Linked DNA regions of Homo sapiens. The protein of the gene in region 2 interacts with the protein of the main gene of each other region in a pairwise test. Each region holds a gene or a part of one and is shown on either strand. Other genes may lie near its edges.

Region 1 (3,660 bases), on a different chromosome or scaffold from region 2:
AGAAATTTTAATTGACTTGGTTTTGGCAGTGAGAATTGTACAACTTAGCATTAATAAGTCAAATTTAAAAATTTGCTCATTACTCTGGATTATGACTATGTTCAAGAAATACTATTTTCAAGCACTAATCATTTAGATAAAACTTTTTTTACACATTTATGGCATCAAGGAGTATGACTGTTTATAACATTTTACCTATAAAGCTGAACTGTTTTATATACTCTTTATGGAAACATGGCCATAAATTAAAAGATGCAACTGTTTTGAATATTTTACTGGTGGTCCTCTGTTTTCCTGCCAGCAGTGCAGCTGTTTCAGGTTTCTCAGGATAACATATAAAAAGCTGTATGCACACTGCAAGTTTATGCTCAAATTGCCAAGCCAGATATGGTATGACTCAACTTTCCCAGAAGCAAGCTGTACCAAAATGTGATGAATCAAAACAGTTAGTTGCACAGTGGTTTGTATTACAGCTATGAAAACCAATTCTCATTTATGATGTTTGGCTTTTCAAGGTTGACAAACATTCTACTGTGGTGCTTGAATTTTACCATAAGTGAACATCTATTGAAGCTAAGACTATGCTTTTCTTTTGAGGATCTGAGGAAAGGAAAGGGTGATACATTATCATCTGGTGTGCGGATAAAAATTAGCTGGAAACTTGTATCAGGAATGGAACATTTCATTTCCAAGTTACCTATAAAAATATTACTCACTTATTATTTGTATGATAGTTATTGAATTCCCTGTGAAGCCAGGTTAATTTTTAGACCTTTCTGAGGTAACTTAACATTTACTTCATTTCTCATGCATCAGAATCTTAACAGTTGATACTTTATTGTGTCTTGGAAAGTAATAAGCAGATAACTTTATGGCCATGGGGTAGGTGTGGTGAATCCCTATTTCAATCCTATGCGACCTAAGGTTCTATCAAGAGTTTAACAACGACTATTTTTCTTTTTTTTTTTTAAACAGGGTCTCACTCTGTTGCCCAGGCTGGAGTGCAGTGGTGCGATCTCCGCTCACTGCAACCTCTGCCTCATGGACTGAAGTGATTCTCTTGCCTCCCAAGTAGCTGGATTACAGGCACCTGCCACTGTGCCTGGCTACTTTTTCTATTTTTAGTAGAGACGGGGTTTCACCATGTTGGCCAGGCTGGTCTGAAACTCCTGTCCTCAGGTGATCCACCTGCCTCGGCTTCCCAGAGTGCTGGGCTCACAGGTGTGCGCCACCACACCCAGACAACAATGACTAATTAATAATAGTAGTCTCTAAAGTGGGATGTGTCCCATGAGGATATGTAAGATACAGTATATGGAGAAAATATTAAAACATTCATTCATTAATTTATTTAGAGATGGAGTCTCGCTGTGTCACCCAGGCTGGAGTGCAGTGGCGAAATCTCGGCTCACTGCAACCTCCACCTCCTGGGTTCAAGTGATTCTCCTGCCTCATCCTCCTGGGTAGCTGGGATTACAGGCATGTGCCACCACGCCCAGCCAAGTTTTTGTATTTTTAGTAGAGATGGGGTTTTGCCATATTGGCCAGGCTGGTCTTGAACTTCTGACTTCAGATGATCCGCCCACCTTGGCCTTCCAAAGTGCTGGGTTACAGGTGTGAGCCACTGTACCCAGCCAGAACTTTTATTTAAATATTTTTATTTCATCCTTTTTCTATTTATATTTTTATATTACACTGACTATATTAGTATCTTATGTATATAATTATATATAGTAACATATAGTACATTAGTATTCTACATAAAACATATCTGAGATATGTTTTATGGCTATAAAATACTATCAAAAATGTTTTTGTTTTTGTTCAATAAATATTCTCTTCTTCCTTCCGCTTTCCCCTTTCGCCCTTGGCAGAGAAGCAAATAATTGAGTTAAAACCTTGATTTGTGGCAATGTGAATAAATTATAGCTAATTCCAGGAACTTAGCTGCATCCTACCTTGACCCATTTTTTCTACTGGACTCTTATATTGCTCTATATGTTTTAGCTACACAGGTTTATTAAACATGGATACAGATGAAAAACAGACTTGTTATGTTAGAAGTTATAAGTTGCTCATGCATTAAGATTTTGACACACAGGAAGTTTGAATGAATGAGTGAAAAAGGTTCCAAGTTATTAAAATGTTCTGGTACCTGATTTATTCATTTGCCATACCAGTAATTCTAAGGTGGGTGAAGCTCCTTTACTTCCTGAAGAAACAAGTTAGTTTCTTAAACTAAGCATTAAAAGAAAGCTGGAATTATTTGTTTCCAGAAGTGTTAGTAGTCATGCTAAGTTGCCCTTCTTTGGCTAGATTGTCCAATGTTTTTTAGGCCTGTTTTGTCTATTTTTGTCAAGATATAAATGTTTAATTGCTTTAAAAAAACTGTGTGGTTGCAGAAAAAAATTGTACTGTTATATTGTTGAGATCAATGAGACTTTTCTGTATTTACTTTTTCAGACATTATTTTGAACTCAGGCTCAGTCTCAGAGATTTCTTCAACATGTAATTTTCTAATGTTTCCTTTCCTGCAAGGAATGAGACAATATATTCTTGGAATATTAAAGTACTTTTGAAGTAACTCATACGTTTTCTCCCCTCTTCCATTTGTTTAGCTATTGAGGGTTTGCTTTAAAACAAATTTATGTAGAAATATCAGTACTATAATAGTATTGTGATACTGTGTATTTCTTAAGCATATGCCAGGAAGGAGAGCATTAGTTAGGTGTCCAAAAAACAGCCAACAAAACAAATCAGCTCTGAAAATCGTGAAGCAGTGAATATTTTAGAATTATTTTTGAAACCTCTTTCAGAACTGTTTTTAGACCCCGTGGTAATTTGCTATGTAATTTAATACTAGTTTAGGCACTCCATGTACAGTTGGTATGTTTCCTTTTGAAAGATAATAATCTATTTATAATAAAAGTCTGAATATTTCAATCTCGGAATTCCTCTTTAAAACTTGAATCAGTTTTACTATTGCTTTTTAAAATGTTACCTATTTATATTTGCTTTGTATATCAATGCTACACTTCTTGTTTTGTTTTAGGTATTTAAACCATGTCAGAGCTGCCTCACCACAGGACCTTGCTGGAGGCTATACTTCTTCTCTTGCTTGTCACAGAGCACTACAGGATGCATTCAGTGGGCTTTTCTGGCAGCCCAGTTAACCATTTATAAGATTTGGACCTTGGAGCTGAACCAGGGAGCTAGCAAAAGTAAAGCAGACTTATAAAATTATAGCTATGTGCAGCTGCACAACACAGTCCTTCCACTAGCAGCTGTGTTAAAGTATTTATAAGGAGAAAATTTCAGAACTAAGTTGAGTAATATAGGGGATATATATTTGTGAAAAATAATTTTTACTTATATTTTTCAGAGGATTTGACACGATAAGCCTCATCTGATGGAAGAGAGGAATAAATAATTCACCTATATGTGTTTGAGGTTGTGACAGACTTATAAAATCTTTTTAAAAAATAAAGCTATAATTTATATTAAGTTCTGTGGTTTTTCTCTTATTACAGTGTTTTACTTGAACACATTTTAAATACCATTTTGATTACAACATTTACTGTTAATATCCAAGTCTATTATTTCTTCTCATAAAATGTTCCCCTTTTTCCTAATGTCTTGTTAATACTAGTCCAGACAAGT
Region 2 (3,348 bases):
AGTGACCGCATCTCTTAGAAAAAATTTAAAAAATTAGCCAGGCGTGTTGGTGAGTGACTATAGTCCCAGCTACTTGGGAGGCTGAGGTGGAAGGACTGCTTGAGCCAGGGAGGTCGAGGCTGCAGGAAGCCATGATCACACCACTGCACTCTAGCCTGGACAACAGAGCCAGAGCCAGAGCCAGACCCTGTCTCAAAAAAAAAAAAAAAAGGTTGGTAAGGTTGTTCTACTTCTATAACTTTCTAAATGTACATGTTCTACGTATGTATCAGGATTTTCCAAATTCCTACTTAAGATACATCCTAAATACTAATGGATTATTAATGTCATAGCCAACAAAAATTTTCTTGAGCTTTTCCTCACTAGTATAAATAGTCTGGTTGCAGTATTGCTATCTTCCACAGATTCCAGGATGTTCCTCAATTTCCCTTCAGGCAGAGAATATATTAAATAAATATTCACTCTGCAAATGGAGAAATATTAAATAAATAAATATTCACTCTGCAAATGGAGAAAACAAGCTTTATTATAATGATTTGAGATTTTGTGCATGGTAAAGAGATACACATGAATCCTGTTTCTCCTATGTTTCAAGACAGAATTAATTGAAAGTTTCATTGTAGACTAAAGCATCCAAAATACTGTGGTACGTATGTAGCTACGAACATACAAACACTTTGATGCACAGCGTTCATTCTTTTCTTTAAATAGGCAGTCAACATTTTGATTCATAAAAGAACAAATGACGAGAATATATCAGTATCAATGTCAGAGAGTGCAAGACTTAGTGTTCTATACATAAAACATATGAAACAGACCTATAAAGATGGAATGTACAAAATCTAAAAAGAAAACAAAGCAAAAAAAAAAAACCCCTTCATATTCATACATAGGCTTGAAAGTCTATAGAATTGAGAACGATATAAAGAATTCTATTACAAGAATACACTCCATTGATGACAGAACATTCCCATGTCATAAAGCAAAAGCATTGAGTTTAAGGCTGTGTTGCTTTCAAAAGTTAATGGAAGTGCTGTACATTCATTGGAACAACATAGCCAATTTATTAATCTATTCTAGAATATTAATAGCTTTCATACATTCTCCACAAACAGACCAATCACTGCCACACAATTCATCTTTAGAAAGTTTTTAAGCATCATGATTTGTAGCTTACTGTCATTGAAAACAAAACAAATAATTCTTTATTTATACCAAACAAATCTTTGATGGGCACTTAGTTTCCTTTATGGCAATACTAGATTTCTAGTTATCAAAAATATTAAAGTAATTATAAAGTTTAAAACCCTGCAACATTTACAGAAACCAACAGTATTACCACTTTCACTTTTAAGCTAAATTAGATAATGTTTGCATGAAATAGCTTTCATTTTTTCCTACCTGGAGATGTCTTGTTTTTAAATTATTAAATTGTCAAACTAAAAATACTCCTCCCTTTTCAGAAGCTAGTGAATAGAGAGGGTACTATAGAGTCTACAAAAAGATTTTTCCCATTTGAAGTAATCTGCAGATTACCTAATGTTTATTTACTACTTCCTCCAATTAACTAAGTAGGTATTACCAAAGCATTTCTGTTAACCCGTCAGTGCTAAGGATTCACAGATACTTGCTAGTGTACTGCTATTCCAGTTAACTCCATGTTAGGACATACCCTGTATATTTAGTAGTGGAAGCAAGTGTGTTCTAGCTGCATGGATCTGGAGTATTTATTTGCTTCAAATCTAGTCACAGTAAATTAAAATAAGGAAACTTAGGGACTTGTTTAGTTCTGGAGACTAAAGTTTGATCAAAATACTAAGTACCATTAAAAAAAATGGCAAACAGTCATAAAGGACTTGTAGTCATGTATTTCTGGATGGTCAAGTGACTCTCTGCCTCCCCATGTCCAGCAAGGGGGGCTGGGGGGTCTGTACTGGGAGGAAATGCGTCGTCACTGACCTTGAAATCCCAACCGGCAATATTTTGCCTTACGTGCCCAGGGGAAATTTGAATGAGTAATTTTTCAGTGCTACTTATCATGAATGTATGACAGGTTCTATACACTTGACAAAGAGAAATCAAACAATAATGGTAGCCCAGAAAAAAGCCACTTATTTTAATATCCTTCTCAGTTTACCAGAAACCATTTTCCATAGAATGTGACAAAATTTCATTTAAATTTTGTCTACTTGTATCATATCAGCAGCACTTTCCCCCAAAAATATGCTTACCAAGAAATACAGTAAATGCACATATGTATCCAAGTGTGAAATGTTATCTATACTTTAACATATATAATCACATATTTTTTGGAAAAAATATAGTGTTTCCTGGAGTGCTCATAGCATGTGTTTTAGCAACACATAGTGGAGCAGGTCTGAATCAAACTATTCTTTCATTCCAGTTTGTGCCAATATTGACATGTAAAAAAAATTAGCTTTGTATTCAGTCTACTATTGAGATATCTAGCCTGATAGGATATGATATGATGGCTGGTTAGATTGTAAGTTAATTTCTAAGTTCACAAATATAATTGAAATGTTGTGCAAAAAAACTCTTTAAATCAACTAGTTTTAAGATCAACAGCCTGGGACAGAAAGAATCTAAATAAAAAGCCATTTTTACTTGTGAAAATAAACTAAAATTAATGTAACCAATTTGAAAAGTTTCTTTTAAACAATCTAGACAAGAGTCTAGCCTGTCTTTTGTGCAGAACGTTAGTACGTGGCAAAATGAAATTCCCACCCCAGAATGTCAGCTCTGAGGGGGCAGCGATTTTTTACCTGTTTTGTCCATCACTGTATTTCCAGTGCCTAAAAGAGTACTTGGTACCTAGTAGGTACTCAGTAAATATGAATGTTTAAATTCAAAGATGTATCTCACTGATGTTAGGAAACAGTGTCTTCATTTAACATTCTAAAAAGTTATTGAATTTTATAGCTTTATCACGGACAGGCTCAAGTATTTTTTAAAACTCTACCTAACTAAAAAAATATTAAACCTAAATGTAAATCTTCCTGGAAAAACCTTTTTTCAGAGGTTGATTTGGGCATAATAAATTTAACAGACAATTTGAAGTAGCTAGATTTCCCTTCTAAATTTTAAGAAGTCCTATATAGAGAATGACTGAATTATAAATTAATAAGCAATAAACATCACATTCATATAATTATACATAGGGGAAATGTTTTCTTATAGTACAGTTCTAAGGTGCTTTCAGTGAAGAAGACCCCAAAGTCACTATCAAAAATGTCAAACATGACATCCTATTTGGTAGAACTGAGTAGAAAATTAAACAGTGGAAATAGACCACAGCTTATTTTACAGTACCAATGACAGATGAACGAT
Region 3 (3,660 bases), on a different chromosome or scaffold from region 2:
GTCTAATTCATCCTTGATTTCCTGGAGCATACCAAAGACAATGCTGACATTTGGTAGATATTAAATAAAATGAATGAATGAATGAACCTGAATTTTTACATTATTGCTATTATGGTATGTATATTGCCATGTGCTTAGCAACAAGGATACATTCTGAGAAATGAGTTGTTACACATTTCATCGTTGTTTGAAAATCATGGAGCGTACTTACACAAACCAAGATGGTATAGCTTAATACATACGAAGGCTATGTTATAGCCTGTTGCTCCTAGGCTACAAACCTATACAACATGTTACTGTACTAAACACTATAGGCCATTGTAACACAATGGTAAATATTTGTGTATCTAAATATAGAAAAAGTACAGTAAAAATTTGGTATTATTATCTTATGGGACCACCATGATATATGCCGTCTGTTGTTGAGTGAAACATTGTTATGTGGCACGTGAGTATGTAAACTATACAGCCTGTTTCTTTTTCACTTAACATTGTCTCTCAAGTAACTTCCATATGGTTATAATCAATATTTTAATAGCTATTCAGTATTCCTTTGAAGGTCAGTGCTGCGCAGTAGCACTTTCTGCATTGATGGAAATGTCCAATATATCTCACCGTTCAATACAGTACCTACTAGTCATATGTGGCTACTGAGCACTTGAAATGTTACCACTGTGACTAGGGAGCTGAATTTTTAATTTTATTTAATTTTAATTATTTTAAATGTAAATAACCACCTGTGACTGTGCCTACAGTGATGGGCAATACAAGTTGAGACCATAATGACTAACTACTTCTTTCTTGATAACAAATTAGATACATTTTCAATTATCACACTGTTATTCAAGGGAAGTGTACTTGAAATGTTGGTTAAAATATTTTGAATTTTAAATACACTAACCACCATCAACTAAAATTTTTATAATCTTAATTTAAATTCAATGTAAATGTATATGCTAGGAAGGAACAAGTTACAGAAAGGAACTTGTAACTTGCTTTTTGATCTATCACAGTTTTATACCGTACATTCATGAGCCTAAGGTTAGGTTTCTTGAGAGTACAGACTATGTCTCATGTTATTTTTTAATCTATTTCCAGATCCATACATAGTAAGCATTTAATACATGCTTATTGAAAGTTGTATATATTGGTTTGTCGTTTTGCTCTAAAAAAAGTTTACTTCTGAAATTATATGTTGTCTGTGTTTTCCTATAGGTTATGCTTTCTAATCCAGTGCTAGAGAATCCAGTGAATTTGGAAGCAGCCAGAATACTGGTTAAAGATGAATCTCTGTACAGAACAATTCTAAGACTTTTCAACAGGCCATTACAAAGTAAGAAGTATCTACTTTTGTTAGGTGCAGTGGCTCACGCCTGTAATCCCAACACTTTGGGAGGCTCAGGTGGGTGGATCATCTGAGGTCCGGAGTTCGAGACCAGCCTGACCAACATGGAGAAACCCTGTCTCTACTAAAATACAGAATTAGCTGGGCGTAGTGGCACATGCCAGTAATCCCACCTACTCGGGAGCCTGAGGCAGGAGAATCACTTGAACCTGGGAGGCAGAAGTTGCGGTGAGCCGAGATCATGCCATTGCACTCTAGCCCGGGCAACGAGAGTGAAACTCTGTCTCAAAAAAAAAAAGAAGTACCTACTTTTTGTTATTTGGCAATTATCAATTATACTTTAAACATTTATAGCATAGTGATCTAGGAAATAACTGTTATATAAGGGAATATTTGAAATATTTTCTGTATCCATTTTCAGTAATGAATGGTATTAAGATCTCTCCTACTGTAACTCTTTGTGAAACCAATCAGTGTGATCCTTTTTTAAAGATCATCAAAGATCTCAAGCTCCGTATCTTTAAATATTATGGTCATATGCATGGATGGTGCCAAATGAAACTAGTCCACCCATCATAAAGGTATGACATCTAATTTTGACTCTTCAATCTGTAATGGACATTTCCCAGACTTCACCTGCAGTACTCCAGATCTTACTGATTTGTACCACTTTTCTTCTTGATTAGCAAGATGTCAATGATTTTTTTCCGGAGAGTTCCCTCCCCAGGAATTCCTTCTAAGAATCCATGTGGAAATAGAGCCTGAAGCTCTTCAGTCTTTCTGCTCCACTGAGCAGTGTTTTCCTGATACCCTTGGTATCCTGCCAGCAGCCTCGTTATGACTCCTAACTCCATTGCCTCCATTGCCCCTGTGCGCTCTCTCTCTCTTTCTCTCCAGGTAGTAGAGCACTGCTTCTGGCTTCTTGTGCACAGAAGGGTTTCCCACAGCTGAGAGCTGGGCTCCTACTGACATAGTTATTTCCTTTATATCCTGCCCCACCTTCTTCTGGTAGCACACAGCAACCTTGCATAGTAGCTGGTATCATTACCTTCCCAATCAACAGGCCTTGATTTCTTATAGTACTTTTTCTCTCAGATTTACATTGCTTCTTTTTCTGTTTCCCTTCCAGGACTCCCAGTCCATTAGCTAGGTCTGTATAATTGTGACCAAGTTCAATTGCTCCTCCTCCACAGGGTTTTTGGGTCTGATACAAATCAAATGGTGTTGATCAAGCATCTTTTCCAGTACCATAGAACTTTATTCTACGACAAAGTTCTTGGGGGAGCTATTTGATCACAAGCTTAAGGTGAAGCAGTAATAGAAAATTCCCTTCTTCTAAGTATGTGTTATATACTCATTTTACCCTTCTCTGGCTTGGTGGGCTTTCATCTGGAATACCAGTAGGCTCCACTTGGAACCTCACATTTCTAAAGGCTGAAGAAACTGTATATATTTAGCCAACAGAAGAAAAGATAAAGGGCAGTTGTAAAAGCTGTTTTCAAATATTCGAAGGGATTTCCTATGGAAAAAGATTTCTTCTGGGTTGCTTCAGAAAACTAACATAGGACAAACACTGAAGTTACACGTCAGTCATACTTTCCCGGGCCTGCTGGGTTGTAGCAGAACTGAAGTTCACATACGCAGGCTTGGCCCTGCCTCGTGTCAGTACATACCTTAAATGTATCAGGGACTTTACTCCGTGATCAGTTGTCTGGAATTAATTTTATTGTCCTAAGTCTAAGCCTGGTATGTGATATGCAGACATGTAAATGTCGCTCATTACCCAAACTTTTCCCCAACATTTGTTATGTTTGCCTACCCTGAATAGCTAGGTCTTTGCCTCAGTGTATTGACAAGAAGACCAAGCTCTAAGCTCAAACCCAGTGTGGAGGTCTGATGACCTTCCCATTTCCTGACAGCCTCCTTTCCTTGTGGCCTGGCCCCTTTTCCTTTCTTAGAGGACTCACATACCCCAGACTGCCTGGGAAAGTCCTGGTATAATTATTCCCAGTACCTCCTTTCACTTGCAGTGTACCAGTTTGAACAAACGATTATCTAGCCAGTTGGGTGCCCAGCTGATCTTTCCTAAAAGCAAATGACTCTATAGTTGTGCCATTCTTAATGGTAAAGTCCATCCAGGTCCCAGTTGGCCAAACATGAGGAAGAATTGTTTGAAATAATTCAAGTTGCTTAAAAGAATGGACAAGGCCAGGCTGGCAGTTAGTAAACTCTCTATTACTAAAGGTATTCTTTGTATCTAGTGTTTATTTGATAGAGCTAAATGACCATTTTTCAGAGATGTTATCAAAGAGCTT

Evidence for each region.
Region 1: the proteins of TRIM2 (region 2) and MNAT1 interact in a two-hybrid assay, tested with the Homo sapiens proteins (one large-scale study listed by BioGRID and IntAct).
Region 3: the proteins of TRIM2 (region 2) and UBE2U interact in a two-hybrid assay, tested with the Homo sapiens proteins (one large-scale study listed by BioGRID and IntAct).

Annotation. Positions count from the first base shown.
Region 1 is NC_000014.9:60,965,177-60,968,836, forward strand, and holds part of MNAT1 (CDK-activating kinase assembly factor MAT1), read left to right. Parts: intron 1-3,052; coding exon 3,053-3,173; 3' UTR 3,174-3,382; coding exon of another isoform or gene 3,383-3,410; 3' UTR 3,411-3,660.
Region 2 is NC_000004.12:153,336,478-153,339,825, reverse strand, and holds the end of TRIM2 (tripartite motif-containing protein 2), read right to left. Parts: 3' UTR 509-3,348; downstream 1-508. UniProt on the Homo sapiens protein: UBE2D1-dependent E3 ubiquitin-protein ligase that mediates the ubiquitination of NEFL and of phosphorylated BCL2L11. Plays a neuroprotective function. May play a role in neuronal rapid ischemic tolerance.
Region 3 is NC_000001.11:64,213,600-64,217,259, forward strand, and holds part of UBE2U (ubiquitin-conjugating enzyme E2 U), read left to right. Parts: intron 1-1,215; coding exon 1,216-1,333; intron 1,334-1,837; exon of another isoform or gene 1,838-1,926; intron 1,927-3,660. UniProt on the Homo sapiens protein: Catalyzes the covalent attachment of ubiquitin to other proteins.